2 linked regions of the Homo sapiens genome follow. The protein of the gene in region 2 purifies or fractionates together with the protein of the main gene of each other region. This does not show direct contact. Each region holds a gene or a part of one and is shown on either strand. Other genes may lie near its edges.

Evidence for each region.
Region 1: the proteins of MYO1D (region 2) and TBC1D9B purify together in Homo sapiens (affinity purification with mass spectrometry; 3 studies listed by BioGRID and IntAct, with this or other methods). This does not show direct contact.

Annotation. Positions count from the first base shown.
Region 1 is NC_000005.10:179,887,768-179,903,958, reverse strand, and holds part of TBC1D9B (TBC1 domain family member 9B), read left to right. Parts: intron 1-4,651; coding exon 4,652-4,770; intron 4,771-9,344; coding exon 9,345-9,573; intron 9,574-10,491; coding exon 10,492-10,750; intron 10,751-12,372; coding exon 12,373-12,580; intron 12,581-15,646; coding exon 15,647-15,856; intron 15,857-16,191. UniProt on the Homo sapiens protein: May act as a GTPase-activating protein for Rab family protein(s).
Region 2 is NC_000017.11:32,757,483-32,773,673, forward strand, and holds part of MYO1D (unconventional myosin-Id), read right to left. Parts: intron 15,361-16,191; coding exon 15,307-15,360; intron 13,739-15,306; coding exon 13,643-13,738; intron 10,271-13,642; coding exon 10,154-10,270; intron 7,600-10,153; coding exon 7,396-7,599; intron 3,146-7,395; coding exon 3,000-3,145; intron 2,923-2,999; coding exon 2,808-2,922; intron 2,645-2,807; coding exon of another isoform or gene 2,630-2,644; exon of another isoform or gene 2,330-2,629; intron 1-2,329. UniProt on the Homo sapiens protein: Unconventional myosin that functions as actin-based motor protein with ATPase activity. Plays a role in endosomal protein trafficking, and especially in the transfer of cargo proteins from early to recycling endosomes.

The sequences.
Region 1 (16,191 bases), on a different chromosome or scaffold from region 2:
GCAGTGAAAAATTTGACTCGCCTGATGCCCATGTCCCCAGCTGAGGCAGAACAGGACGACGCTCTGCCTTCTTGATTCAGCTCTCATACTGCACTCACGTGTCCTGTTCACAGTCTCTGCAGTGCCATGTTTTTCCCATGTTTGTGCTCGTTGCTGATGACTTGGCTGTTTAAAATGGCTCCCAAGCATAGCGCTCTTGTTCCTAAGAGCAAGAAGGCTGAGTTGTGCCTTGTGAAGGAGATCTGTGCATGAGAGCAGCTTCATTCAGGCGTGAGTGATAGTGCTGCTGGCCGTGAGCTCAATGCCAATCGATCAGGAATACGTATTAAATAAGGCATCTTTAAACAGAAACACATGTAAAACAGTTATGTATCGGTCAGTCGACAGAAGTGTGATTAGAGGCTCCAGGAACCTAACCCTGTGTTCCCCCGGGGTACTGGTTCAGGATTCGCTAACTCAGTGTTCGCGGCCACCTTACAGAATCTGACCACCTGAATAACGAGAATCCGCTGTAGTTGTCCTCCTAGGTGGAAGCGCACTCACCCGTCCAAGAGTGCGGAGGGAAGTCCCCTTTCAGCGGGTACCTGCTGGGTTGAGTTTGCTCTGAGAAAATGACAGTCCTAGCTGACGCTCAGACAGTGCTTCCTGTGTGCCAGGCACTTGCCTGAACCACCCGGTACCTCCAGAAGGCATAAGTACTTTGGTCTTCTCTATGTTGAAGGTGAAGAAACTCTGGCCCAGAGGGGTTGAGTAACCTGCTCAGAGTCACACAGCTGCAGTTTGGACCCTCTCAGTACCTCTCTGAAGCAGAAGCCACAGTGCCCTTGTTCTCCAGGGTAGTGGTTTCCCTTGAAGGCCTGGGAGAAGATGATGAGACTCAAAAGTTTGTCAACCTCACGGCTGGAACCCAGCTTCAGGAGGGGAAGGGTCAAGGAAGTAAAAGCACAGGGCGGGCGGCACCCCGGGAATAGCCCCACTCCCAGGTGGGCGCTCTGCACGGGCATCCTGACCAGCAGTGCCCTTCTCCTTTGCAGGACTGAATAACTCAGTAAGAGTTAGGAAGGGGAGTTTGTCCAAGGCCAAGCAGGGAAGCCCAGTTAGACCCCCGATCTCTGGCTTCAGAGCCTGAGTGGACCCTGGGGGCAGCAAGAGTTTGCCAGAGGAGGGGCTTCCTGTGGGGAGGGGACCATTTCTGAGTGGGCCAGGAGGTTGGTGTGTGCTAATGAGGAGAGGAGCTGCTTTAACATGGGCCCTTGAGATTTCCATCTCTGGCAGCAAGAGCTGCCCGTCCCTGGGGAGAGAAAAGTACGAGGGGCAGAGTGGGAATCCCTTTAGTCACAGCAGGCCTGGTGCTGGGGAGGGGCCCAGCCACAGCCACGCAGCGGAGCCCATGTACGTAGCCCCGTGCCACACACTTGACCTCTCCCCTCCTGCCAGGCCCAAAGCCCTGCACTGGCCCTGGCTGTGCCTCCCTTTCCTGCCAGCCAGGCTAGGCCCCAGAAGCAACTCACCAAGACCAGACATGGCCCTGCCAGCACCTGCTTAGTGAGTCCTGACCCTTGAGCCTGGTGTTCGAGGACACCTGGGGGTCTGCCTGCCTCCATTTCTGGCCTTGTCTCCCCAGCTCACAGCCTGGCCTTCAGCCGGACCACACAGCTGCAGGGCCTGGAGGAGCCACACCCCTCCTGGCTGCTGTGCCTAGTGTCCGCCATGCCAGCTAACCTTCCCTCCCGCTCCTCTGAGAACTGCCCAGACTCCACAGACCCATCCTTCCTCCTTACTCCTCTGGACATGACGTGTCTGCACACGCTTTTACGTGGAAGCCCATGAGGCCGGGAGCTTCCGAGGGTGAGGGCAGGCTCTGCAGCCAGGCACCCAGGGTTAGGATTCTGATTTGATCACTTCCCAGCTGTGTGACCTTGGGTAACTTATTTCACCTCTCTGTGCCTCAGCTTCATCTGGTAAAATGAAAATAATGGTACCTGTCTCCACTGTGTTCTGAGAATGAAATAAGATAATCCATGGAAAACTCTGAAAACAGAAACAGCATTTAATACTCTAATTAGCTATTATATTATTTTTATTCCCAGCACCTAGCATAGAGATGGAATAGTTTCTTAGTATGAAATGAAGATTGAGTTACTTTTAACTAATATTTTTAATGCACATATGTAAAAAAAGAAATGTTTTTTTGAGGCGTTCTCTTTCTGTTGCCCAGGCTGGAGTGCCGTGGTGCAATCACAGCTCACTGCAGCTCTCTGGCTAAAGCGATCCTCCCACCTCAGCCTCCTGACTAGCTGGGACTGCAGGCCCACGCAACCATGCCTCATTTTTTCTATTTTTTGTAGAGACAGCCATGTTGCCCAGACTGATCTCAAACTCCTGGGCTCAAGCGATTCCCCTGCCTCAGCCTCCCAGAGTGCTGGGATTATAGGACTGAGCCACTGTGCCCGGCCTATAAATATTTTTAATTAAAGTGCTGACACATCCACACAGGCAGCGAGGAGGAGATTTCTTCTGTTTTAGTTTTCTAGGAATGTTATGTGTAACAGAAAATAATACAGTAGAGTTGCACCACATGTAAATTTGACTTCCAAATTCAACTGTGGGTTCCTGGCAAAGAAACCGAAAAAGAAATCTCTACCTACCAACTAGGCCTTGGCCTCTGTGCATCAGGGAAAGGAGGCTGTAATAGAAATGCAAAGAAAAATGAAAAAAAAAGTTTAAAGTGAATTATGGATGACTTAAGGGGCTTCCAGGAGTAATTCTGGGGGCCTTTTGTGACTCACTGCAAGCTGTGTGATTCTGGGTGGAATCGTTTTCCCGTGGGCATCCTCCCCCAGGCCAATCGGGAGGATCTATCCTGTGGCCTTGCTTCTTAGGTCAGGGTCTGCTTGAGGAGATTTGACAAAGCAAACAAATCAGTCCCAAGCAGAACAGCCGGGCTGTGACACAGCCTTGAGCGGGTGCCACGGGCTGGAGCAGGTGACAGGCCCAGCCTGGCCTGGAGGGAGGGTCAGAGCTGTCTCCAGCTGGCAGAAGAGCCTGGTCAGGGAGGGAAGGAAGGTGGTCGGGGCAGGCGTGCCAGCAGAGACGTCTGGTTCACAGTCACACTGGCCTCCCGAGCATAGTGCCGTAGTGCTCTTGTTCCTAAGAGCAAGAAGGCTGAGTTGTGCCTTGTGAAGGAGATCCGTGCATGCGAGCAGCTTCTTTCAGGCGTGAGTGATAGTGCTGCTGGCCGTGAGCTCAATGCCAATCGATCAGGGATACGTATTAAATAAGGCATCTTTAAACAGAAACATGTAAAACAGTTATGTATCGGTCAGTCGACAAGAGTGTGATTAGAGGCTCCAGGAACCTAACCCTGTGTTCCCCCAGGGTACTGGTTCAGGATTCGCTAACTCAGTGTTCGCGGCCACCTTACAGAATCTGACCACCTGAATAACGAGAATCTGCCATGTCTTGGCTGAGGCTGTCTTCATGCCTGGTGGGTGGGCCTCCTGTCCCACCCCCGGACAGCTGAGAATGATTCAGGGTGTCATTCACTCCTCATCCTTGTGTTCATTCAGTACAGGCAAAACCCCAGAAACAGGTGCTGGGGGTAGGGGAGCCAGGCCAGGCAGAGATCTCCCCTCATCCCTTTGCTCTTCCCCCGGGGCTTCTTCCCCGATTCCTTAATGGGAGCAAACAATTCTTCCAGCCTTTGAAAGTGGCATCGTGCTGCCTTCTCTACGTTTTTGTTTTGTGTGTTGTTTTGTTTTTTGAGACGAGGTCTCACTTTGTCACTCAGGCTGCACTGTAGCCTCCGCCTCCCAGGCTCAAGCAATCCTCCCACCTCAGCATCCTGAGTGGCTGGGACCACAGGTGCATGCCACCACGCCCAGCTAATTTTTTGTATTTTTGGTTTCGCCATGCTGCCCGGGCTGATCTCGAACTCCTGGGCTCAAATGACCCTCCTGCCTCAGCCTCCCAAAGTGCTGGGATTACAGGCATGAGACACGGCGCCCAGATTTTCTCTACATTTTTTTTAATTTCCGTTGGGCCTATGGAGGACAGGGACCCCCTCCCTCCTAGGTGGGGCAGACACAAGGTAAGAAGGTGGCCAGGAGAAACTGAAGAGAGGGACAGTAGCTACTCGCCTGCCCAGCAGGAGCCTCGCTGGCCAGGGGCCTGGAGTCTTGTAGGAAGCTCCGGCTGCTTATCTGTGGATACCTAGATGCTCAGGAAAGAGCTGGACTCATTTATACAAAGTATGACTGTGTCTGATTAATCACCTACATAGCAAAAGCCACATTAAGTTCTTTCAACTTGAGGAAAAGTGTAAGTTAGCAAGCTTGCAGGCACACAGACTATTTCTAGGACACATAGGAGACTTAGTGACTCTCCCTGTTGGCTTCAGGGACAGGTGGAAACATTCTCTCCCACACGACTGTGATTCAGCCTGGACGTTTAATTTTTTGTTTTTTTACCAGGACCATTTATTACTTTGTTATGCACATATCCATCAGCTTAAGAGGGAAAAGCAGCTTGAAGATTCTGGTCACTTAGATTTAGCAAATGAGGTCACCCACTTTCATCTCGCTTCTTTGAATGTGCGTTTAAGGCCTGGGGAATTCATGATTTTTCTTTTACTTTACCAAACCTCTTCTAGGTTCTTCCCGCAAAGAGATCACAAAACACTGGGAATGGCTGGAAAATAACTTGCTCCAGACACTGTCCATCTTCGACAGTGAGGAAGATATCACCACCTTCGTCAAGGGCAAGATACACGTAAGGTTTACCCGCCACTCTCTGTTCTCACCCTTCCCTGGCCAGCAGTGTTCTCGTGTATTATCCTATTTCATCTTCACGATGTAGGGTGCGTCCCCATTTTACAAAGGTGGAGACTGAAGTGTCAGCGCTCCTTCTCTTGGAGTTGAAAGGGGCAGAGGAACTCGTGACCCAGGAAAACCCCTTCTTACCCTGGGTGGGCACTGGAGGCTGCTGAAGCCTAGTGCGGGGCTTCCATTCCTACCCAAGTGCCTTGGAAGGCGTACGCAGATAGACGGTTCTGTTTGCCAGAAGAGATGCTGGAAACAATTGGATATTTTGAGTTGTTTTTTATAATAAAACTAACGTTATTTTAAAAGACACATGCCCTTTACCCAAAAATTCCATTCTTGGCGTTTACCCTACAGTGTATTCATATATGCAGAATATACAGTTTAAAGGGCCAGGTGTGGTGGCCCACACCTATAATCCCAGCACTATGGGAGGCCGAGGTGGGTGGATCATCTGAGGTCAGGAGTTCAAGAGCAGCCTGGCCAACGTGGCAAAACCCCATCTCTACTAAAAATACAAAAATTAGCCAGGCATGGTGGCACGCGCCTGTAATCCCAGCTACTCAAGAGGCTGAGACAGGAGAATTGCTTGAACCCAGGAGGCCGAGGTTGCAGTGAGCTGAGATCGTGCCACTGCACACCAGCCTAGGTGACAGAGTGAGACTCCATCTCAATTAAAAAAAAAAGGCCAGGTGCGGTGGCTCAGGCCTGTAATCCCAGCACTTTGGGAGGCCAAGACAGGCAGATCACGAGGTTAGGAGATCGCGACCATCCTGGCTAACACAGTGAAACCCTGTCTCTACTAAAAATACAAAAAAAATTAGCCGGGCGTGGTGGTGGGCACCTGTAGTTCCAGCTAATCGGGAGGCTGAGGCAGGAGAATGGCATAAACCCGGGAAGCAGAGTTTGCAGTGAGCCAAGATGATGCCACTGCACTCCAGCCCAGGCGACAGAATGAGACTTCGTCTCAAAAAAAAAAAAAAAAAGTAGAGATGGGGTTTTGCCATGTTGGCCAGGCTAGTCTCAAACTCCTGACCTTAAGTGATCCACCCACCTTGGCCTCCCAAAGTTATGGGATTACAGGCATCAGCCACCGCACCTGGCCTGAATGTATATGTCTTTTTCTTTCTGTTAGGTTATTGCCTTAAGTTAGATTCATGGGAGGGCTCTTACCAGGTCAAAGTCGTGTGGTGCAAAGTTGCTTTGGGCAGGCCCATGTGAATTCCTGATACCAGAACTTCCTAAGCCTGGACAGACATTACCAGCTTTCTCAGCTCTTCTCAGTGCACTTTGGGGTTCAAGGTGAGACCTGGTTACCTCTATCTCCAGGAAAACAGGTGGAGAGAGCAGAAGCAAGCCTTTACTCTGGTGAGCAATTGGGCGATGATAATAATAGTAGTTGTGACATTATTCACTGCCTCCTATATGCCAGGCCCAACAAACGCATCAGCAGAACAAACCAAATGACTCATAGGCCAAGGAAGAAATGGAAATTAGAAAATATTTAGAATTGAGGCCAGGTGTGGTGGCTCACACCTGTAATCCCAGCACTCTGGGAGGCCAAGACGGGCGGATCACTTGAGGTCAGGAGATCAAGGCCAGCCATCCTTTGCCAACATGGCAAAACCCTGTCTCTACTAAAAATATTTAAAAAGTAGCTGGGCGTGGTGGCATGGGCCTGTAGTCCCAGCTACTCGGAATGGAAGACTGAGGCAGGAGAATCACTTGGACTTAGGAGGCAGAGGTTGCAGTGAGCTGAGATCACACCACTGCACTCCAGCCTGGGCAACAGAGCGAGACTCCATCTCAAAAAAAAAAAAAAGAAAAGAAAATGATTGAAATACTACTGCATGTCAGGATGTGTGGGATGCAGTGAGAGCAATACACAGAAGGAAATTTAAAGCCTTCAGTCTTACAAAAGAAGGAAGGATGGGCCAGGCGCAGTGGCTTATGCCTGTAATCCCAGCACTTTTGGAGGCCGAGGCGGGCGGATCACGAGGTCAGGAGATCGAGACCATCCTGGCTAACACAGTGAAACCCCATCTCTACTAAAAATACAAAAAAATTAGCCGGGCATGGTGGCGGGGGCCTGTAGTCCCAGCTACTCGGGAGGCTGAGGCAGGAGAATGGCATGAACCTGGGAGGCGGAGGTTGCAGTGAGCCGAGATCATGCCACTGCCCTCCAGCCTGGGCAACAGAGCGAGACTCCGTCTCAAAATACGCTGTGAGGAGCATCTTTAAAAAAGCAAAACTCTAAAGAGAGAGGATGACAAAACAGCCTTAAACCAGTACCTTTAAGAATTTAGACAAAATGGGGCTGGGCGTGGTGTCTCACACCCGTAATCCTAGCACTTTGGGAGGCTAAGGCAGGTGGATCACTTGAGGCCAGGAGTTTAAGACCAGCCTGGCCAACATGGCAAAACCTTGTCTCTACTAAAAATATAAAAAATTAGCTGGGCATGGTGTCGCGCACCTGTAATCCCACCTATTTGGGAGGCTGAGGCACAAGAATTGCTTGAACCCGGGAGGCAGAGGTTGCAGTGAGCCAAGATTGCGCCACAGCATTCCAGCCTGGGCAATAGAGTGAGACCCTGTCTAAAAAAAAAAGAATTTAGACAAAATGGGCACTTTATTAGAATAACATTTATTAATTTCCAGTTGCTTCTGCAACAAATTACCATCAACTTAGTGGCTTAAAAGAACACCAGTTTGGCTAGGCGCGGTGGCTCACACCTGTAATCCCAGCACTTTGGAGAGAGATGTTTAGATCGCAGCTGCGGTAGCACTGGTATAAGAGAAGAAAAACCCTTTTCCTTCTCCCCATTTAGGTTCTTGGCTGGGGCTCTGTTACAAAAGGCAGATTAACAAGACAAAAACAGAAGTTTACTAATGTGTGTATCTCATATATTCATGGGAGAAACTTGGATAGGTGACTCAAAAGTTTAGTTGGAATTGGGTTTACACAGCCTCTTAACACAGGGACAGGCCACTTAAAGAACAATAACAGGACAGACGAAAACAGCTTATGCTTCCAAGGGCAGGAAACTGTGAGAAGATAAATACGTGGGATGAAACCGATGGAGTAAGGTTTGTTTGCAGATGCGTGCGGTGTCATCTCTGGGCTGATAGGAATCTAGAATTGTCTCCAATAAAGGAGAACGTATATCCAGCTTTTAGGCAGAAAGGGGGAGGGAGGGCAGAAAGAGCTTTTCCTGTGTTTGCTGCTACTTAATTGCCTTCAGCTCAAAATACTTCTTATGTCAAAAGGGCATATTTTGGGATGGCATATTGTAGTTTCCTTCCCTGGCTACTCAGAAATAGAAGAAATCAGAACAGATCCCACCTTTCAGTCCTCACCTAGGCTCATGGCTGTCCTCACTGCCCATGGACAGAGGGATCGGGGGTGGCCCAGCCACCAGCACTGACCTTGACTGACTAGTTTATCTTGTAATTGTCTTTCTAGAAAATCAATGTGTACATTTTGAGCTGAGGGCACTGCTGAGGACCTGTTTTACCCCAGGAGGCTTGGGGCTGGCTCTGTGGCCCAGGGGGATGTCTCTGGGCACCCTGAGCCCTGTAACAATGCCAGCAGCATGAGGGAGTATGGACGGGCCCTGAAACTGCAGGTCCTGCCGCTGGTTTGTGTGCAGGGCCAAGAGGCAGGAGCCCCCTGGCATACAGGGGGCCAAGTGCAGGACGTCCTCCAGGATGTGATAAGAGAAGCGCTTTACAGAACAGAGCTGCAGGGTGATCCCATTTGGGCAAATAAAGGGGGAAAGAGGAAAACATACATTTGCTTATGAATCCATTGGTGTTTGCATGTCTGGAAGGAACCAGGAAAGTCACTACAGAGAGCGAGAAAAGATTCCCTTTTCACTGAATACACATTTCTACTGTATGCATTTTTTACCATGTTTATGGATAATGTTTCAACAATTTTACATGAAAATAACTGAAATATTCATTTTAAAAGTGTCAGGCCAGACACAGTGGTTCACACCTGTAATCCCAGCACTTTGGGAGGCTGAGGCGGGCGGATCACTTGAGCCCAGGAGTTTGAGACCAGCCTGGGCAACATGGCAAAACCCCATTTCTACAAAAAGTACAAAATTAGCCAGGTGTGGTGGAGTACACCTATAGTCCCAACTACTTGGGAGGCTGAGGCAGGAGGATGGCTTCAGCTGTTGGGTTGAGGCTACAGTGAGCCGTGGTTGAGCCACTGCACTCCAGCTTGGGTGACAGAGTGAGACCCTGTCTTAATTTTTTTAAAAAGCCTCTGCTCACAACTGGTGATGACAGTAGTTACGGGAGTTGCAGGAACTTTGTCTAGAGAGTCACACAGGCAGCGTCTCTCATCCATGTGCCTTGACTGCAAGCCAGCAAGAGCCACTGACTGTTCCCAGCTGTGCCTGTAGCCCTTAGACCAAGGTCCATGAGTCCTGGGTTCCCTGGGCCTCTCTGCTCCACCCTTTGACCTGTCCGGGACTGTGCAGGGCAAGCCCTTGTCCTCTTGCCTTCCTCCAGGGAATCATCGCAGAAGAGAACAAGAACCTGCAGCCCCAGGGAGACGAGGACCCCGGGAAGTTCAAGGAGGCTGAGCTGAAGATGCGGAAGCAGTTTGGGATGCCTGAGGGCGAGAAGCTGGTGAATTACTACTCCTGCAGCTACTGGAAGGGCCGCGTGCCCCGGCAGGGCTGGCTGTACCTGACGGTCAACCACCTGTGCTTCTACTCCTTCCTGCTGGGGAAGGAAGGTGAGCCCGCCCCTCAGTGTGCCCCAGCCCCCACACCCTCAGCCCCTCCCTGCCTTCGGCCCCCAGATACTCCATCCCCACATGGCCACCAGAGGGGTCTCCCTGAAACCCAAATGCCACCTTAGCGGCCCAAGATGGGACTGTCCGGCCTTGGCCAGGCGTACACCTGCTCCCAGCCGACTTTTACCATGCCCCCCACTCGCTAGTAGGGTTCTCTACATGGTGACTCCGCGTGCCTGCCCTGCCCTCTTCTGCTGAACTGGCGTATTCAGGCACACGTCTGTCCCAAATTCCTGGTGATTCCATGTCATGCAATGCCTTGGGTGCGTGCCACAGCCCTCATCTGCTGCAGGTTCCTCCCTACAGACATCCCGGCCACAGGATGCGAGCCTGATTTCCCAGCAGCTCCAGAAAGAGCCCCAGGGTCTTAGCCATCCCCAAGCCCACCAAGCCCTCCTCCCTCCTTGCCTCCCTCAGCCCACAGCCTCCCTGTGCCCCCTCCTGCCCTTGCCGCTTACCTGTCACGACCAGGTGGCCAGTCACCTCCCGTCAGCAGGGGCTGTGTCCTGTTCTGTGTTGGCCGCGCTGTGCTGTGACTGTTCACACCTCCGTGCGCTCCCACTTGGGGGAGCTGCTGGGTGGGTCTCGGTGGTTCACCTCCGCACGTTCGTTCCTTTCCCCTTCAGCCACTGGTGGGGGAGACACTCACCGTGTGTGGTTGGTCTGGAAGGCAGTGGACACCTCAGTGGCCTGGTCCCTCCACATGGAGGGCGTGACACAGCCCAGACAGGCCTGGGCACACAGGAAGTGCTGCCCCCAGAGAGCAGTTCCCTGGGATGGGTCTGGGGTACAGATGGGCATCAGGAGCCTCGCCCTGCCAGGCCCTAACTTGCGGTGTGTCTATCTCTGTGGGCACAGTGAGCCTCGTGGTGCAGTGGGTGGACATAACGCGTCTGGAGAAGAACGCCACCCTGCTCTTCCCCGAGAGCATCCGTGTGGACACCCGCGACCAGGAGCTCTTCTTCTCCATGTTCCTCAACATCGGCGAGACCTTCAAGCTCATGGAGCAGTTGGCCAACCTGGCCATGCGGCAGCTGCTGGACAGCGAGGGCTTCCTGGAGGACAAGGCCCTGCCTAGGCCCATCCGGCCACACAGGAACATCTCAGCCCTGAAGCGGTGCGTTGCCCTCCAGGGCTGGGGTGGGCTCATGTGAGCCAGGTTCGCTGACCTTGGCTGGGACCTGCCTGGTCCAAGTGTGTAGACCTGGAGAAGGTGTCCACATTCACCCCTCATGGGCTCCCCACTTGGGAAGGAAGCCAGGTAAACAGATCATTGCAGTCCCGTGTGGAGAGGCAGCAGGAGATAGCAGTGATGTCCTGAGGATACCACTAATGGGGAGGAAGCTCTTCACACTTTATTCCTCTTGGCCCTATGATGGGAAGGGGCTCTTACCATCCCTAGGTATCAGACAAGGAAGCTGAGGCACAGAGAGGTTAAGTAACTTGCCTGAAGTCCCTCGGTTAGTGAGCAGTGGAGCCAGGATGTAGCCACCTCAGCCAGGGTGTTCTGACACCCCCAGAAAGGCTTTGGTAAATCTGGGCTCAAGTGCACGGCCTCCGTCCCACCGTGATTGACAGCTCTCCTGTATACCCTGAGACTCCTTGGCCAGAGGCCTCTCACAGCCATGGGACCCCCAGGGGTCCTGAGTTTGACGTGGAAGCAGACCTCTGGGTCTGAAGCCAGCCAAGGAGATGGGCCATGTGTGGGTCTGAGTTCCCTGCTGCCCTGTCCAGGGGACCGATAGGCAGGAACACATCATAGCAGCCAGCCCTCCCGGGCTACTTAACGTTTGGGTTCCTAGGTTGTAGCTTATGGGAAACTCCAGAGGCTGGACAAGATCTCTGAGGTTCCCTGGGTCCCACAGCCAGCCTGACCACAGCCAGATTCACACCCTTGTGTTGAGCGACCTCATTCCAGCCAGGCCATTTCCTGCATTGCACCCACAGACTGTGGTCCAGGCCCAAACTCTGGGGTCCACCTCCAGGACCAGAAAATTGTGCAAGCATGTTGTCCTTGGGATGCAAGTGACAGGTTGGCTTGTTGGACCTTTTGGAAAGAACACGAGCAGAGATGGAACATGACTGCTCCTGGCACTGCCGGTGAGAATGCAGTCAGGCCCTGGTCAGGCCACTGCGGCCCAGGGCAGGCAGGAGGCTCCCTTTGGGGCTGGGAGAGTTTATGTGGACAGAGCCACCAAAGGGGTGAGGGCCTGGGCCAGGCCACTGTCACAGCCATCAGATACACAGGTGTGCATTTCTGTTAGCAGCCGCATGCTTTAGTTTAAGCTCCACACCTCCCTGTGGGGAGCTCCTCACCTAGGTTTCAAGGTGAAACCTGGGGTTAGGCCTGCCCAGGGTGGAAGAGCTGCCCGGGGCCCTCCATCTGAGTGGGATCCAGGGCAGGTGCTCTGGGCTCTGCTTGCCCATCAGTACCGAGGGATGGGTTGCACATTGCCCAGGCCAGCATCTAGGTGTGTCCTTTTCAAAGCAGTCTCAGGACACATTGCTTGCTGGCCACTTCTCCGCTGGTTATGTGACTGTCTCACCTTCTGCCTGCTCACTCAGCATGCATCTTTTATTGAACTCTGAGGTCCCTGAGCATGACTTGCTCAAGGGACCACCCCAGGGATCCTGAATCTGATGTGGAAACAGGCCTGGGGAGGCCCCAAGGCTTCCTTGAGAGTGTGCTGGTCCTGACCTTGTCCCCTTTCCTCCTGTCCTCCTACCTTGTTTCCCCAGAGACCTGGACGCCCGAGCCAAGAATGAGTGCTACCGAGCCACGTTCCGGCTGCCCAGGGATGAGCGGCTAGACGGCCACACAAGCTGCACCCTGTGGACGCCGTTCAACAAGCTGCACATCCCTGGCCAGATGTTCATCTCCAACAACTACATCTGCTTCGCCAGCAAGGAGGAGGACGCTTGCCACCTCATCATACCCCTGAGGGAGGTCAGCATCCCCTAGTTGAGAGGCCAAGGCCTTTCCAGCCCCGAGGTGTCAGTGGGCTCAGGGACCAGCCTGTCCTGCTCTGCCCTGTCTCACTGGGGGGTACCTGGGAGGATGCCCTAGCCCAGGCAGTCACATGTCACTCAGTGATGGGACAGGTGGAGGGTGTAGGACAAGTGAGCCCCTCCACAGGCACCTGCCCTGTTGGGGAGGCAGGTAACATGGTGGGGGCACACTGCTTGCCCTCTCAGGTCACTTGCCTAGTGGAGACAGGGTCTCCCACGCGTGAGTTTCCATCAGGCCTGCCTTCTGGGCCCTGCAGGGCAAAGTGCTGCTCCGTGGCTGCGCTTAGAGGACCGTGTTCCTGCACCGGTCCCATATGTCACTCTCAGAGGCCACCTCACCAGTCCTCTCTGGACATACCACCTTGGCGTGGCTCGGCTCCAGCAGGCCATCAGAGGTCGGCTCTCCCCTGTGGGGCGGCGTCGGCTCTCCCCTGTGAGGCTGCATTGGCTCTCACTTGCTCCTTCTTGGGTTTCTTGGACTTCCACAGTGACCCTGGTGGGAGCAAGGCCATCTGTCCTGCACTGCACCGAAGGGGTGTGGACAGCAAGGACAAGGGCCCTTGCCCAAATAGAAGGCATGAGACTGAGTCAGGACAGGTCCCAAGGCCTCCTTTTCCTTGTGGCCAAGCAGGGCTCTGACTGTTTAATTATAAGAAGAATCAAGTGAGATTCTTAACTTAAAGACCTCCCTGCCATTTGCACAAATCCCTCAAGTTGCAGATGTAGCTGAGAATAGGTGTGGGAGAGTTGCTGCCTCAGTTTCCCCAAGGGAAGTCAGAGGGAAGGAACTCAGAAGAGCCACAGCTCCAAAAGCTCCAGGTTAAGAGGCTCAGGTGTGACCCGAACCCCACATTCTGTTAGCACCAGGGCCCTGTGGATCTGTCCGGGGCACTGTACTGACCTGTCCCCCAGGCCTAGGGGTCTTCCTGACACCTGAGGCTCCGTTTGGATTTCTCCTGCCGGGCCCTTGACATCTCAGATGGTAGAGAGCCCTGGCGGAGCTCGGGGAGCAGGACTAGCTCACACTGGAGGACTGAGTGTGCTCTGGTGATGGAACTCTGCAGCTGGTCAGGGTGGGGGCCGCCTGCCCAGCCAGCGCTGACCCCTCAACACACCTGCTCCTCCACGTTCCAGCCTGCAGGCTTTTGCGCACGCAGCTCACTCTGCTGTGGGTGTAGTGGACTCTTGAATTTCACTCCCAACCACCCGCTTCCATGCTTCCCTCGGGAAGTGACCCCTCTTCCACCCTTTGCCCAGGTAAAAGCCACGTATCGGCCTAGATTCCGACCTCTCCCTCCTCCCTACAGCATGTCTTGCCAGCTCACCCCGCAGAGCTCAGCCCTTCCTCTCCACGGACACCACCTAAGACACCATCATCTGCTTTAGCCACTCCCTAACCACACTGAACCCCAACCCCCGCCTTTTTTTTTTTTTTTTTTTTTTTTGAGACAGGGTCTCACTCTTGCCTGGGCAGGAGTGCAGTGGTGTGATCATGGCTCACTACAGCCTCCATCTCCCGGACTTAAGTGATTCTCCCACCTCAACTTCCCGAGTAGCTGGGACAGCAGATGCTTGCCACCACACCTAGCTGTTTTTTTTAAATTTTTAACAGAGACAGGGATTCATCATGTTGCCCAGGCTGGTCTCAAACTTCAGGATTCAAGTGATCCTCCCTCAGCCGTCCAAAGTGCTGGGATTACAGGCCTGAGCCGCCACACCCGGCCTAACACACTTAGCCCCTTTATGGCGTATCCTCCCACAGCAACCAGCAAAATTCGAAATGTCAGTGGGAGCATGTTGGCACCCTGCTTAGAGTCCTCTAGAGTCTTCTCCCACCTGCCTCCTATGACCTGTGAGACCTTCTGTGCGCCTCTCCCACCTGCCTCCTGTGACCTGTGAGGCCTTCTGTGCGCCTCTCCCCCTCTCAGACCTGCGCCCAGGCACACCCCATGGATATGTTCACACACAGACATAAAAAGTGCACACTCAGACTGGGCGCGGTGGCTCACGCCTGTAATCCCAGCACTTTGGGAGGCTGAGGCGGGTGGGTCACGAGGTCAGGAGATCGAGACCATCCTGGCTAACATGGTGAAACCCGTCTCTACTAAAAATACAAAAAATTAGCCGGGCGTGGTGGTGGGCACCTGTGGTCCCAGCTACTTGGGAGGCTGAGGCAGGAGAATGGCGTGAACCCGGGAGGCAGAGCTTGCAGTGAGCTGAGATCGCACCACTGCACTCCAGCCTGGGCGACAGCGAGACTCCGTCTCAAAAAAAAAAAAAGTGCACACTCACCTCCACCACTGCCCAGCTCACACTGTCCTGGCTTCTCTGGCCTTCTCTTCCTCCCTCAGGCAGTCCTACTCCCCTCTGCAGGGTGACTGCTGTGCCCCCACCCATCTCTTCCCCAGCACTCACCTGGCTGGACCAGGTCTCAGCTCAGTGGCCGCCTCCCCTGGGACCACCCAGCCTTCCCTCTTCCCAGCACTCACCCCTGCTGACTGTGCTCAGCTGGTGCATCCCTCGTCCGTCTCCCTGCCAGGCCTTGGGCTCTGCAGAGGTGCCCACTGAAAGCTTGTCCTGTGCCCTCTACACCTCAGAGGGGTTCAGAGCCAAGCTCCAGGACCCCTGCTGTCAAAAAGTGTTCCCTGGGAACAAGTGCAGGGAACAGTCCTGCAAGCAAGGGACTGCTTGCCCTGCTTTCGGACAGCCTTCTGAGAGCCAGTGAAGGCCAGCAGCTGGGCTGAACACTACATCATCCTCAGAACCACCCTGCACAGCCGGTGTGCTCCCCGCCATCGACAGGAAAAACGGGCCCTTAGAGGCACAGGCAACTTGCTCGGGGTTAGGTGCAGCGGGTGGCAGAGTCAGAATGTGAGGACAGTTGGGCCACTCACTGCATTGTGCCCAGGAGAGGACAGCTGCATGACAGTCTGCCATTCACAAAGCATGCCCAGCTGCAGGGCCTGAGATGCAGACACCCAAAAGAGTTCTTTCACCTTCTCAGGTGACCATTGTCGAAAAAGCTGACAGCTCCAGCGTGCTGCCCAGCCCCCTGTCCATCAGCACCAAAAGCAAAATGACATTCCTGTTTGCCAACCTGAAAGACCGTGATTTCTTGGTGCAGAGGATCTCTGACTTCCTCCAGAAAACACCATCCAAGCAGCCAGGCAGTATCGGGAGCAGGAAAGCCAGTGTTGTGGACCCTAGCACAGAGGTGAGAAGCCCCTTGGGAGCAGCAGGGTCGAGTTGGGCCCAGGAAGAGCCAGGGCATCCATCAGCCTCCCCGCTGGAGCCTGACCCCATGGTTCCGGCTGTGGGCCTCCGCCTAGGGGTGGATGTGTCAGAGCTGGCAAGAGACCCCTAGCCCAGACCCACACTGCCCAGCAACATCACAGCCTCTCTGCACCCCCAGCCACACACCCGGTACTCCTCACTCCTGCTGGGCCCATTGCCCATGAGGAACCTTCTCTGGCTGTCCTTTCTGCATTGCTGCTGCACTCAGAGCAAAGCCACACTGTGGAGGCCTGTACACTTCGGCTTTGTTCCCAT
Region 2 (16,191 bases):
GTGAAGCAGTGTAGGTCTAAATATTTACTTTCATTATGGGCATTTATTACATTTCTAATTAGGGAGAAAAGTTATTTCCATCTTTGGAAAAAAAATCCTAAAAATACTCAAAAAGCAGGAGCTCTATATTAATAGTTGACATCTTAGACTTCGGGACTGTGAAATTAAAGACGAAGTCTTTTGTCCCAGGGACTAAAGAATTACCTTCCCTAAAATCCCAATTATATTATTAAAAGCTATTGGTCTCTGCTAGTAACTTTCAGTTTGTAAGTTTAATACTGCTTCAAACATTGCTTAAACCAGTAGTTTTCAAACTAAGTTCTTCCAGCAACTTGGCATTCCCGTAAGGTTTCCTAAGGGATACCAGGAGCCAGAAGACTTGTGATGGGGTAGCTTAGGGACATGGGGCTCTGGCCTTTCATACCCACTCCAGATAAAACAGCTTTGTGCTTGAGTATCAAGTTCTCAATAGTTAAAATGATTTGCAAACTACAGCATCGAAAGCTTTTAAAAGTGAATGTACCAGATAACCAGACATTATGAACCTCCTGGTGGAAGTTCACACACAGTCTATGAAATGGGCTGTGGAAAAAAACTGACTCTGAATCCAGTCAAGACTCTAGATCTAACAACCAATATACAGGACATACAAGAAACAGAGAAACATATTAAATGGCACCTGAGGAATGCAATTAGCAAAATCCAGACTGTGGGGAACTCCATAACAAATGACTCATTCTCTTCAACACAAGATTGCAAAGAGAGATCATTCAAGGAAAAAAAGAAACATGGAGAAAATCTATAGATATGCAAGAGACCTATCAATCAATCATAATGTAAGAAACTTATTTGGATCCAAATTTAACCTGCAAAACAACAACCAGAAGACAATTAAGGAAATATGAAACATGTATACTGACTGGATATTTTATGATATTAAGGAATTTTTGTTAATGTTTTAGGTATGATAATGGCATTGTGATTATGGTTTTTGTAAAACTCTCTTAGAGAAATACATGGAAATATTTACTGAATAGATACCCAATTGAATAGATGAAATAATGTGATATCTGAAATTTGCTTCAAAATAATCTGGGAGTAGGTGGGTATAGTACAGATGGCATAAGACTGGCAATCAACTGGTACGTGTTAAAGCCAGGTGATGGGTATATAGGGTTTACTGTACTATAGTCTGTCTTCTTAATGTGTGTTTAAAATTTTCCATAATAAAAAATCTTTTAAAAAGAATCACTATGTTTAGAAGTTTGGGGTTTTACCCAGAATAGAGATTCTAATTGTGGGGGGATCTGCCATGTAGTAAGTAACTGTTACCTTGGAGTTAGCCTTCTGCTCCCTCTAGGACAAATAGTTCTTGGTTTATTTAGCGAAAATTTTTTGCATTTTGGGATTCTTAATTCTTTTTGAGATGTTTGGAACAGTCCACTGCATTACTTACCCTGTTGTCAATTATGTCTGTGAAATTTGATATTCTGATTGTGAAAGGATATTTTTGACTAGTACCTTGGAATCACATTTGAATAACAAGTTTTATGATTAAATTTGGTATTAAAAATCCAAGCTTCAGTTATACCGTGTATTATATTATACAACAGTTTCATTCTTAGAAAGCTTCATATACACTTAATTGAACTGAATTAAATTTTAATTGTATTAGGAGAGTTCATTATTTAAGTCAAACTATAGATAATTCTTATATAAAATAGCCCTTTGGTTTATATGCAGATAGGTAAAATTTATGCCAATATACCTGAGCAACTGTTTTATGGTATTCTAACGTTTAACACATGATGGAAGGCAGATACAATTTTGAGGCGGGAAAGCTATTTGTTATATCACTGTCTCTTTATTTCAGAATGAGAGGAAATAGAAAATAGGTAGGAAGGAAGATAAAAGTCATTTAAATATAGTATTTCAAATATTTTTTTGCTGCTATTATATTGGATAACAAAAAACAAATACTGGCTTCATTTCTATTCTCTGGCAAGAGGATGAACAATCATATAAACTCAAACTACAGAAACTTAAAAGTTTTTGTATTTTTCAAGTTTATTCTCAAAATTGCTTAAAAATACAAACTTACAAGAAAAATTACTATGTCTCATTTCTATCATAAACAGAAGGTCTTATCACAGGAAATTTAAAAACCAAACAAGTCATGCCTTTTAGCTTTGATCTCTGTGGTTTGCACTGTGCACCCATTATACTTTCCAGCTATATCTTACCAGATTAGTTTGCCTCTGACAAATACAAAAGTTCCCAAAGATTGATTAGAGTAGAGGTGATAATTGAAGTGTAATACACAAGAAAATGCAAAGTAAAACAAGTATTTTAATGTGTAGGTTTCAGAGAATATAAACAACATTAACTGAAGACAATAAAATACCATATAGTCTACAAAGTAGAAGAGGAGAAAAAGGAGGAAAAAGGGAAGAAGAAACTAGATTCTGAAGCAAAGTTCAGCCAATTTAAGGTATAACTTAATAAAGTATGCTAAACCTAACAGACAGATATAAACCAGTAAGTCCACGTGGTAGCAGCCATAAAGTGAAAACAGGTTTACTGGTTCTAACTCAGGATGTTCTGGGCATCAACAAGGCAGTCTATCAAATTATAGCAATCCCACCTAAAAATGATGAAATTAATTGTATTTACATATCCCAAAAAGGAAAGCTAAGGTTCAGATGTTTCAAATACCCCCAAAAGATCAAGAAATACCTAAAATAAAATTTGACATTATCAATAATATGAGAAACACATGAAGGCATTTTCCATAAGAGTCCACTCACATGTTTCCAGGGGATCCCTTCCCGCTGGTATTCCTCTTGTTCTTGCTTCAGAACCAGCTGAATAAATAGCTGCTGCAGTTTCTCATTGCAGTAATTGATACAGAATTGTTCAAAACTACAAGAAAAGGAATAAATTAAGTTTCAACAAATAGAAAACAGGCAACAAGGTTTTAAGTATCTTTTCCAGTTTACCTGTTGTTGTCAAAGATTTCAAAGCCATAGATATCCAAGACACCAATAACAGTGTTTTTCCCATGGATTGTGGTGTCATAGTTCTTGACCTCAATAATATCATTGATGCGAGTAACGATCCAACAAAAAAGGCGCTCATATATTGCCTGCAAGGAAAATAGCATCATAAATGCTTGCCAATTTGGGAATGAGTCCTCTGTTTGGATTTGTGATCAGTTTTAAATTCCTGTCCACCTTCTCACTGTTTAGCATAGCCATTACTGGCCTCAGCAGAACAAATGAAAATGTAGACTGTCCATTTAAAAAAACCCAAACTACCTGATGTATGCAAAACTAAAGTAAATAGCTTGTATTTTTAAAAGATTATTACCGGTCATTATACCAATTCCAACGACACTCTCCAGGCATGTTTCCCTGCCCGGCTATATCAATAGTTTGCCTGATCCCTTGAATAAGCCAGTTCATTGCTTTATTATTAATTTCATCAACTATAAAGAGTTGAGAGCTAGTGAGTTAATATCTATGATCCACTAAAGCTATATGAATTCTAAAAAATATAAATATTGATTTCTAATGCTAAATGAAGATCTGAGCCAAAGATCAAGGGTTGAAATTCCCTGAGAATCGAACACACATCCAATGCACAAGAACACACACACTAAGCCACACATGGACAAAGGTGCCACACGCTAACACACATTCACATCCCGATACACATGTGCTCTGCAACGTCACATCGTTAGAAAACCTTCCTTAACGTCTCCTGCCAGCTACCCACTCTCTTCACCCATATCCATTACCTCCCCTTTACTCTTCAATCCACTCCAGTCTCCACTTACATCCTATTACTCCATTGAAATGGCTCATCAAAGACTCCCAGCACCTCTACATAGATACTTCTCGTACCTCATATGGACATCTTGCTCTGTCGCTCAGCATCACTCAACCTAGGTTTTCACTGCCTTCTTGGAACACTCTTCTCTCTGGATTTCGGATAATAGCCTTTCTGAATTTTACTCTTTGTTCACTGGATGTTCCTTTTTGGTGACCTTTGGTAGAGTCTCCTCTTCTACCTGACTTGTAAAAGTTGGAGTTCTTCCTGGTCCTCTTCTCTTCACTCTCTAGCACCTTCTAAATCATCTCACCCAGGATTAAATAATACAAATATAATATGACTCCCAAAAGTATTATCCAAATCCAGACTCAGAGAACAGTCTCTGAGCTCCTGACTCAAGAGCTTGACTGTCTACCTGACACTGACTCTTCAATGGCTCACAGCCATCTCAAACTCAAAGGACTCTTGATCTTTCCTCTTCCAACAACTGTTCCTATCCTACTTTTAGCCACAAATAAATAGCACCACTTAGAAATTCACTGATTTATTCAACAAATATTTGCTGAATACTTATTATATATAGTTTGTTAGAGATACAGGTCTAGGCAAACACAAACATAGTCTCAATGTCCAAGAAACTTAGGGAATAGAGTGAAGGAAAAAATTATTCTCTCTGTCTCTCTCACTTGCCCCCCACCTCGCAGATAAACATCCACACTAAAGGAGAGGTACATGGGGTCTTAGGGAAATTTAATCTATGCAGTGCTCAGGAAGGTTAGGGAAGGCCTCTCTGGGAAAGTGATACTTGAGACCAGAAGGATGAGTAAGAGGTAGCCAAGCAAGAGAGGAGAGAAGAGCAGTCCAAGCAGAGGGAACAGATGTGCACAGGCCCTGTGACTGGAAGGAGAAAGGGATCAGGATAATCTGTGAGGACTGAGAGAAGACTAATGTGCTGGGCTGAAGAAAGGGGGGCTGGGTATAGTATAAAATGAGGTGGGAGAGGTGGGCTGGAGCCAGACCATGTTAAAGTATTATTCTTGCTTCTCTCATTCTCCACATAATAGGTCCTATGGATTTTATTTTCTCAACACAGTCCATTTCAAATCATCCTCCTCTCCCCATTTGTACTTTCACTTTTCTGATTCAAGCTGCCCTCATCTCTTTCCTGGATTAACAAAATATCCCCTTAATTGACCTCTTTGCTTCCATTCTTACTCTAGCCCCCATAACATTCTCCATACTAAGGCCAGAGTGATCATTTTAAAAATGCAAACTTGCCAGGTGCAGTGGCTCATGCCTGTAATCCCAACACTCTGGGAAGCTGAGGTGGGCAGATCACCTGAGGTCAGGAGTTTGAGACCAGCCTGGCCAACATGATGAGACCCCATCTCTACTAAAAATACAAAAATTAGCCAGGCATGGTGGCGGGTGCCTGTAATCCTAGCTACTCAGGAGGCTGAGGCAGGAGAATTGCTTGAACCCGGGAGGTGGAGGTTGCAGTGAGCTGAGATCATACCATTGCACTCCAGCCTGGGTGACAGAGAGACACCGTCTCAAAAAAAAAAGAAAAAAAAAAAAAGACAAAAAAACGGCCGGGTGCGGTGGCTCACACCTAATCCCAGCACTTTGGGAGGCCGAGGAGGGTGGATCACAAGGTCAGGAGATGGAGACCATCCTGGCTAACATGGTGAAACCCTGTCTCTACTAAAAATATAAAAAATTAGCTGGGCGTGGTGGCGGTCGCCTGTAGTTCCAGCTACTTGGGAGGCTGAGGCAGGAGAATGGCATGAACCCGGAAGGCAGAGCTTGCAGTGAGCTGAGATTGTGCCACTGCACTCCAGCTTGGGCAACAAAGCGAGACTCCATCTCAAAAAAAAAAAAAGGCAAACTTGATGTCATTGCCCCTCCTTAAAGTCCTCCCTATTGCTCTCCATTGCACTTAGGAAAAATTCAAATTCCCCCAAAACTAAAAACCAAGCCTAAGACTTACAAGAGTAAAAAATGAAATAGACAGTAAACTAATCAACCAGCAAAACAACAACAACGAAAGTTAGACGTGAGAAAATACAACGCTTGCCACACAGATAACAAAGGGTTAAAGTTTATGATATGCTAAGAACACTTAGAAATTGACAATAAAAAGATAACAGCTCCAAAGAAAAATGCACAAAAGATATACCCAGGCAATTCTTAGAATATGTTAAAATACTCTACAAAAATATGATAAGATGCTCAAATATACTAGTAATGAAATAAAAGTAACAATAAAATATTACCATGCAGCCATAAAATCAGTAAATTTAAAGTTTAAAATAAATATATGGCAGGTGCGGTGGCTCACGCCTGTAATCCCAGCACTTTGGGAGGCCAAGGCAGGTAGATCGCTTGAGGTCAGGAGTCCGAGACCAGCCTGGTCAACATGGTGAAACCTTGTCTCTACTAAAAATACAAAAATTAGCTGGGCGTGGTGGCACACTCCTGTAATCCCAGCTACTTGGGAGGCTGAGACAGGAGAATCACTTGAACCCGGGAGGTGGAGGTTGCAGTGAGCCAAGATTGTGCCACTGCACTCCAGCCTGGATGGCAGAGCAAGACTCCGTCTCAAAAAATAAAAATAAAATAAGTATACCCTTTGACCTGGCAAGCTCACTCCTGGGAATCCATCCAGCTGAAACAAAAGCACTAGTATATAAGCATAGATGTATAAAGACGTGCAGCATTGTTTGCAGTTGCAAAAAAGGGAAGTAAAGTGGGTGACTTAAGAGTAAGGTGGTTAAATAAATTGTGGTACTATCACTGCAGGCTTAGTACACAGCCCTGGAGGACATTATGCTAAGTGAAATAAGCCAGGCACAAAAAGACAAATATTGTGTGATCTCACCTATATGCAATCTGAAAAAGTCAAACTCATAGAAGCAGAGAATAGAATGGTGATTACCAGAGGCTAGAGGAGCGGGGTGGATGGAGAAAGTGTGAGACGTTAGTCAAAGGGTAAAGTTTCAGTTAGACAGGAAGAATAATTTGTGGTGATCCACTGCAAAGCGTGGTGACTGTTAATAATAATACTAATAATATTGTTTCAAATTGCTAAGAGTGGATTTTAAATGTTCTCACCACAAATAAATGGTAAGTAGGTGAGGTAAGAGGTATGCTAATTAGTCTGATCTGATCATTCCATAATGTGTACATGTCCTGAAATATCCCACTGTACCCATAAACATATACAATTATTGTCAATTAAAAATAAATAAAACTTAAAAAAAATGGATCAGAGCTCAGTCAGTTGACTCTGGCGAAGCATTATTGAGTGAGAGAAGCAGCACGTGAAGCCCTCATGAGCGCCACCCCCAGTCAGCTTCCACTCTTCTCAGAACCTTTTTTGGCAGTGATGCTTACTTACATCTGGGAGTTTTACCGAGGCTTGTATGGCCAGAAAGTATCATTATGGTTTCTAAAAGCCTTAACCCTCTTTCAAGAATGTCTGAATACATGCTCACAGGATTTCACTCAATTTGCAACTGCGATCAACACCAGGTGACATAGGGTCAGTTACACTCTCACCTTGGCAAAGGCGTCTCTGCCGTAGCTGGCCTCTTGTTCTGTGTGCTGCTTGTCAATGATGTCACGGCCTGTGGCCACAGTCCGGTAAAGAAGGGCTTTCTCAACCATATCTGTCTTAGTAGAGAGCAATTCTGCTATGATAGATACTACTTTGCCATTCTCAATAAGAGGCGTGTCACCATCTACTACAAATTTTAAATTTCCCTGTATCAAAAGTGAAAAAAATAACACATTATGAAACATTATGTCAAGGATATATTTGCCAATATAAAATACAATTCAGGTGACCTTGTTTGTACCTATTTTCCTAAATACATTATACATCTCAACATATAAAAACAGTGTTTCATCTACTTTTTCCCTTTCTCCGGACACTCATCTATCTTTTTGCTTTCAGTGTATGTTTTTGATAGATAAAAGTTTTACATTTTTATGTAATCGAATCTATGAATCTTTTGCCTTAGGGTCTCTCTTTCTTTGGTGTCATACTTAGACCATTCCTACTCCAAAGGGTTTATGAGCATTTGATGCTTTCCTCTAATGCTTTTATAGTTTTTGTTTTCCTTAAACTTTTTATTTTATTTATTTATTTATTTTTGAGACAGAGTCTCGCTCTGTCGCCCAGGCTGGAGTGCAAGTGGTGCGATCTTGGCTCACTGCAAGCTCTGCCTCCTGGGTTCACGCCATTCTCCTGCCTCAGCCTCCTGAAGAGCTGGGACTACAGGTGCCTGACACCACGCCCAGCTAATTTTTTGTATTTTTAGTAGAGACAGGGTTTCACCATGTTAGCTAGGATGGTCTCGACCTCCTGACCTCATGATCCACCCACCTCGGCCTCCCAAAGTGCTGGGATTACAGGCGTGAGCCACCGCGCCTGGCCTTTTTCCTTAAACTTTTTAATCCATCCACAATTGATTTTGGTACATGGTATCAAGTAAGAATCTAACTTTATTTTTCACATGATTAGTTGCTCTAACGGGACTTATTGAACAGTCTAGCTTTTTCTGATTTGAAATGTCACCTTTTTTTTGAGACAGGGTCTGTCACCCAGGCTGGAATGCAGTGGTGCACCATGGCTCACTGCAGCCTCAACGTCCCAGGCTTAAGCGATCCTTCCACCCCCAGCCCCTCTAAATAGCTGGGACTACAGATGCGTGCCACCATGCCTGGCTAATTTTTGTATTTTTTGTATAGATGGGGTTTTGCCATGTTGCCCAGGCTGGTCTTGGAACTCCTGGGTTCAAGCAATCTGTCCACCTCAAACTTTCCAAAGTGCTGGGATTACAGGTGTGAGCAACCCCGCCCAGCTGAAATGTCACCTTTTTAATATGTTAAATCTCCTCAAGTGTTTGAGTCTATTTATATTCCACTCATTCAATAAGCAATACATACTTATAACCATCTACCAAATGTCCAGCACATTAACCAATCAGTTGATTAATCTGTTGATCTGGTGCTGAACTTGTGCAAAGTTATAAAGTACTCTAGCTTTTACTATCATTTTAAGTTTGGTAGAACTAGTCATGTTCCCTCTCCTCCCTTACCCTACCCTATACGACACTTCTTTAATATACTTTATTTGATCTTTTTCCAGGTAAATTCTAGAATCAACAGGTCAAGTTAAAAACAAAATAAAGGCCAGGCACAGTGGCTCACGCCTGTAATCCCAGAACTTTGGGAGGCTGAGATGGGCAGATCACGAGGTCAGGAGATCGAGACTGTCCTGGCTATGGTGAAACCCCGTCTCTACTAAAAATAAAAAAAATTAGCCAGGCGTGGTGGCAGGCGCCTGTAGTCCCAGCTACTCAGGAGGCTGAGGCAGGAGAATGGTATGAACTCGGGAGGTGGAGCTTGCAGTGAGCCTAGATTGCACCACTGCACTCCAGCCTGGGTGACAGAGCGAGATTCCATCTCAAAAAGAAAACAAAACAACAAAAAATAAAATTCTTGTTTGGATTCTGAAAAGGACTGCTGCACTGTATTTAAAAACTGATTCAAACAGATGAGACAATTTATAATACTAAAGTCTTCCTAGTCAGGAACATTTATTGTTTATATTGCTATATAATATTTTTCATAAAGATCCTGCACATTTCTGATTCATTTAGAGTTAAATCTTGCTATATTAAGTGAAAAGTAATTTTTATTCCAGATTTGAATCCATGTTGTCATTCTTATTGTAAGATTATATGTTCAGTGTATTTTAAGTATCTCTAATTATATAAATGTTAATGAAAGAAATCTAACACACAGTTCTTCACTTCTAAGTTTGGTGTGGTATAGTGGGAAACAAGTGGCCCAAAAGTGGTCTATGGTGTTGGCTCTGGGATGAGCTGGCTGTGCCTTTGAGGTAGTCATGCCACCCATCAGGGCTATTTCCCAATCTGTAAAATGAGATGATTAAAAATCCAGTTCCGATAACCTATGATTCTATGTTTCAAATGCCACTAGAAATTTATACCACTAGTAGTCACATCACTGCTGAATTCCTTTATCCTTAAAATTAACCAGTTCAAAGTTTGACAATACCAGTAAGACAATCAACTGAAGTAGTAGTCTCCAACCCTATAGTAGCTTGGAAAATCCCTCATAATATTATAAAATGATGGCAAGAACCACAGACATAGTAATTTCTTCAAAATACGTACAAAATTTTCTCTGAATACTTTTTAAATCTACAGGGAAAAAACAAAATCTTCTGAGAAAGCATCCTGTTCTCAGCAGAAGACAATACATTCTGAGAGGTGTCCCTACTCACCAAGTGCAGAATAGCAGCCAAAATCTTATACACTGTTTGGATCTCCTCAGGTTTGAAGCCAATGACTTTCATGGCATCAGCAACAACTCTGAATTCGGCAGCATCATTGATAGAAGACTGGGGATGAAAATGAAAAACTGAAGTTACAGATATTTCCTATGAGCATTAAAATTCAACAATTATAAAACTAAGTTATACCAAGGTTTTGCCTTCATAGTAAATCACTTGAGGGGATGGTGAGTCTCCAGAGAAAATAAAAATGATTTCACGAGTTGCAACATTATTCAGCACGTACAAAGCCCACTTGTGCGTGAAAGCCATCACCTAAAATAAGCACTGTGCCGTTTTCTGGAACCTTCAGTGAGGGAGCAAGTCCTGAGCTGGCTCAGACAAGCTGATCCCCCACTCCATGATCAGTGAAGGCAACAGCATGGATGTGAGATCACAAATGCAAGTGCTGAATGTGGGAGCCTCCAAGATACATGCTTGGCTACTGTTGTTTGTGGCTCTTTGTTCCACAATTGTCTTATTTAGGCTGGCAACAACACTTCACTCTCGTATAATCAGGCGGTTTATTTTCCAGGTGAGGCAAGGCGGGCCCTCAAAAGCAAAACAGCCAGCCTCAGTCATTTAGTAAGCTATTAAATAGTCTGGGACTATAACTTCATTCTTTCACTCACTTGATACGCATTTCACAAGTCAGCTCTACTAACTGGTACAGGCAGCTCAAAGATGAATCGCCTGCCCTTTTAGAGCTGTGGCCATCACATTGGAAATACAAGTGCGTAAACAGAAATTCGCAATAAAGCAATAGTAACTGCTTATATTAGTTTTACCACAGCAGCAGCCGCAGAGGCTTGACCAATTCTTTCCTCAGTAAGTTTCTCCTCTTGTTTGGATACAGAGACCTGGCCTGATGCTCACTTGTTGAGGAAGGGCCCTGGAAGGGGACCTCTCTGCCTGGTGAGTACAAGTTCCTCTAGTGTCCAGGAGACAACCAGGCCAGCCCCTCCTCCTCCTAGGTTTTTGTTTTTACCTTGGACAAGATACTTAACCTCATTGAACCTCAACTTCCTCACAAATAAAATGGGCATAATAACATATATCTTACAGGGTGGTTGTCAGAATTGAATGAAAATTTATATAAAGCACCTCTCTAGCACCAGCATACAAAAAAAAACCACTCAGCAGTATCAGATATTACTATTATTATAAACTGCAACCATGTTGAAGTTGGAAAGTAACTGGATAAAATCTAAATGTCCTACTGTGGGGAACTGTTGGCTGCTTACCTAACAGCCATCCTCTACCCTCATTTCTTTCTTGCCAATCGAACCCTGATTTGTTTACTCCTCTCTAAGTGTGCATGTCCTTTGTGACTGGCATCTACCTAGCCTCAAGAGGTAAATCTTCACTGGTCTAAACTCATCAGAGTGATCTTATTTCCCTTACTAAATGACTGGTTAGCCACAGGCATGGGATGCCATTCTGATCAATACAACATGAGGGAAAGTGTTTATGGGGGATGAGTGGAGGAGGGTTCTTGGGGAGGTTTCCCTAGCTTATAAAGGACATATGCCATGAACATCTCCTTTGCAGGTGACTCCTGGAAATTCTGATGACATTTTGGGACTAAAAGGAAAACCAGCCTAAGAGGACAGAGCTGTCCATGAGTGTGGCAGAGTTGTAAGTTGGGGAAACAACCAAAAAAACACCTGGGTCCCTGACAACATTGTTAAGGCAATGAACTAACTAATTCTGGAATTGTCCTATCTCAGAGTTTCTTGTTATGCTAGATAATTAAGTTTCTTATTGTTTTTGGAGACTTTTAATTGGGTCTTCTCCTACTTGCAACCCAAAATATCTTAACTGTATATGACTCCTGCATTTTAGAACTGGTTAAGATACACACAGTGCAATACTTAATAGTTATAAAAATTATTATATTAATTTATATTTGTTTGCATGGAAAGATTATAATAAAAACAGGTTTATTTAATTAGGATTTATTGTATGATTCCATTTATAAATATAGATGCAAACCATTATCAATAATCATTTCTGTATGGTAAGATTTAGTGTATTTTTGTTTCCTTTTGGTTCATAGTTTAGGTTTTGACTATGATCATTTATTAGTTCTTTGTTTTCTTAGGAAGCAAAAAAAAAAAGGTGGGGAAAGCAGACATGGAAATTTTTGATAAAAAGGGAATCTAAGCTAAATTTAACCTAGAAAAAAGGCTATTAATTTAATACTTGCTTTCTGTGGGGACTCTACACGACTTGGTCAAAAGTAACTTAGTCGATAAGACAATTTGAAAACAAACATTCCCAGTCACTGGCTTTCCAGGTGTTGATTTCACAATTCTTTAAGTGCCTCTGGCTAGTTCTCAGAGAGGTGGAGTGTTGCCCTCTACTGTTTTTTGTTTTTAATTCATTTTCAGCCAAACATCCTGCTCGCTCTCAGATGACCATAAAAGTAAAGTTGTTGTAACCTAAATGTCAAATAATGGAAAATTAATTGCAAAAACCAAAATATCATTAATTTCTATGCACAGCAATAAAAATACAGCTAAACCAATAATGCAGGTATAATTAGCTTATTTTGATTAATAGAATTTTTTAAAGAAATAGCTCCCATATCTTAGATCTTTTTCCTTTACAGTTTCTTTTATTTCTCCCCCAAATATGAAAGCAGTAAGTTTTTGATGTAGAATTTTTTTAAATAAGGAAAAACAGAACACAAATATCCATAATCTCACCCATCTAGAATAAATAATTAATACTGTGATCTATATCCTACCATATCTTATTATATGCATTTATATACCTTCCCTCCTACGAAATAGGATAATAGTGTAACTATTATCAACAAACTATTATTATAATTAGTTGTAAAATTACTAGATGAACTAGAAATAAAATGAACTAGAAATAAAAGAGCAAAAATACGCCTGCATGTAAGTGTATGCAAGTGCTTGCATGCAAGAAAAGAGAAAAAATGGAAAAACTTGAAAGCTGAATAGGAATGCCTCAAAGGTCACAAAATTATTTCTAGGGTACATCAAAATCAACATTTGAACAAACAGTGAGTGGAGAATCAAAGTGCATTTTAATTTTGTCTTACTAACTTGCCTTTGGCCAAATCATATGGAATCTTCTTAGGAGGTAGGCTTCCTAGTCCTATCAATATTTTTATAGTGTGAAAATAAACGGAATAGGGATAGGATTAAAAATTAAAATAAAACATTGAATGTAGGAAAAAACTTCTTTCCTGTCAGATGGTGATAAAATATCATAATTGATTTTAAGCAAAGTTGTTGATTCAAAAATGTGCTGAATCTCTGTCCTTGAGAATTTAAAAAATAGAACAGGATAAAAGAGATGTTTATTTGCCTAAAGATAGCAGGCTTGACCAGATAATTATTGAATGTCTCTTCTAATCCTTTGACTGATTTTCTATTGGAGCAATCTCAAAGAGGAAATTCTCACCTTTAATTGAGCTCCCACATGAATATAGTTGTAGGATGAAAGGGATTTCTGGAGATGTAGAGAGCGTAGCATTTGTTCTGAACCTCCTTGGAGTAGCTGAAAAATATTTAATTAGAAATAAATTGGCCAGACATACATTGAACCAAACATGAACTTAGTGGTAATCTAGCTTTTATTCATTTTCTGGGCTTAATTCACTTATGTCTTCCTGTTTCTAGCTTTGAAGTTTTGCTTGTTTGTTTTTTTAAACATTCAAGGTAAATGGCTTCAATGTCATCAGTTACAGAGAATGTTATGCAGTCATAAAGAAAATTACTCTGAAAATGTCTCATCTCATTTACAATATAACTGGCATAAAAGTTTCTTGCTTTGAATGCCGTCATTTGTAAAACAGGATCCTATGCTCTGTGGTGGTTGCTTGCTTAGCAGCCTCACTATAGACAGGATATAGTTCTGTCTCAGAATTTAGAAAAAGTCAATATTGCTACGGAAGTAAGAAACATCAGCAGACAGTCATATGCTGAATCACACTGGAAACAAACAGCTTTTCCTCATCAATCTGTACCTCTCAGGAAAAGAGGACAGCTGGGGAACCATGATTGTAGTATTGGATAAAGATAAATTTTAATACTTTCACCCAAGTGGGAAGAACACTGGGAAAAAGTTACAGGTTATTGAAATAAACAGAACTCTTTTATATTTGGTAGAAAAATAGCTTATTTAAAACATGGCAAATTGCCAACAGAACCATAAACACAATATTGACAGTGCTTTTATATAGAGCATGTTTTTGGAAGGTATTAGGTTTAAATTCTCTAAATTAAACTGTATGCTTTTGTTTACTTAAAAAGTCTAATTATCAGATTTTAAAAATTGATTTTTAAACTTAATATACCAGAACTTATATATACAAATGAGTAGTGTCTATTAAAGCAGTTACCTAGAAGAAACTGAATTCGACTGAATTGCATCCAATTGTATTGTCACCGTTCAGTTACTTTCTGTTAACCTTGATTTACATTAATTTGGGCTTTAAAAACTTACAATAATATATCATACTTGTTTTCTAAGTGTAAAGACTTGCCAACAGGAAGGCTATTTAAAAGATTTTGCTTTAAAATCTAAAAGCACTCTTGAAAATAAATACTCAAATTTTTTTCTAAACTTGATGGATTAAAAAGGCAATCCTCCCTAGAAGTTATAAATCCAGATTGTTTTTTTAAAAGTAATCATATTGCTTTTAGTGTGTATGAGTGAAACAAACTGAATTTGTATTCTGATCTCTAGAACTCCCAAATATGGAAACAACAGCTTCAATTCAAAATAAAACAAAAATTAATTTAACATTTAGAATGTACCATTTCAAAAGCTTTCACAGTCATTAAAGTGTTATCTGTACTGCAAGAAAATATGGGGGATGCTCACCCAAGGCAGTCATCTGGTTGGCTAAGCTCCTGCCAGCTGGGTGGAACAGTCATGTTCATCCAATCTCTTAAGCAGGTAGGGCAGGGCATGTGGTGCGTGCGTGCGTGCGTGCATGCGTGACATGTTACGGGGCCAATGGAGATGAGTGATGCATAGGACAGGGGAAAGCCCAAGACACAAATACTCATTTCCTGCACAACTGGGCAAATGATCAATTATCTGTATAATGGATTACTAACCTGATAGAAAGAATGAAAGCTTCTTTCTCCTGGCTGTTGCACAATCACTCGAGACTAAGAAAAAACACATTAAAATGGTTAACCCGAAAATGTGCCCCTAAAATAAAACAGGAGCCACTTTCTTAGGGAACTGTCAGGCCTCTGAGCCCAAGCCTGCACGTATACATCCAGATGGCCTGAAGCAACTGAAGAATCACATAAGAAGTGAAAATGGCAGATTCTTGCCTTAACTAATGACATTTGGTGCCGTGACTTGGATCGGGGGAGCTCCCTTGGGAGATCAATCCCCTGTCCTCCTGCTCTTTGCTCTGTGAGAAAGACTGACTTACGACCTCAAGTCCTCAGACCAACCAGCCCAAGGAACATCTCACCAATTTTAAATCAGGTAAGCGGCCTCTTTTTACTCTCTTCTCCAACCTCTCTTACTATCCCTCAACCTCTTTCTCCTTTCAATTTCGGCGCCACCCTTCAATCTCCCCCTTCCCTTAATTTCAGTTCCTTTCCTTTTCTGGTAGAGACAGAGGAGACGTGTTTTATCTGTGAACACAAAACTTCAGCACCGGTCACGGATTCGGGAAGACAGTCTTCCCTTGGTGTTTAATCACTGCAGGGACGCCTGCCTGATTATTCACCCACACTCCATTGGTGTCTGATCACTGTGGGGACACTTGCCTTGATCCTTCACCTTGGTGGCAAGCACCACTTTCCTGGGTGGCAAGTACCAACCCCACCCCACTCCCTACCCCCACCCCCCGACCCCGGCCCATGTCTCTACCCTCTCTTTTCTCTGGGCTTGCCTCCTCCACTATGGTCAACCTTCCACCCTCCATTCCTCCTTCTTCTCCCTTAGCCTGTGTTCTCAAGAACTTAAAACCTCTTCAACTC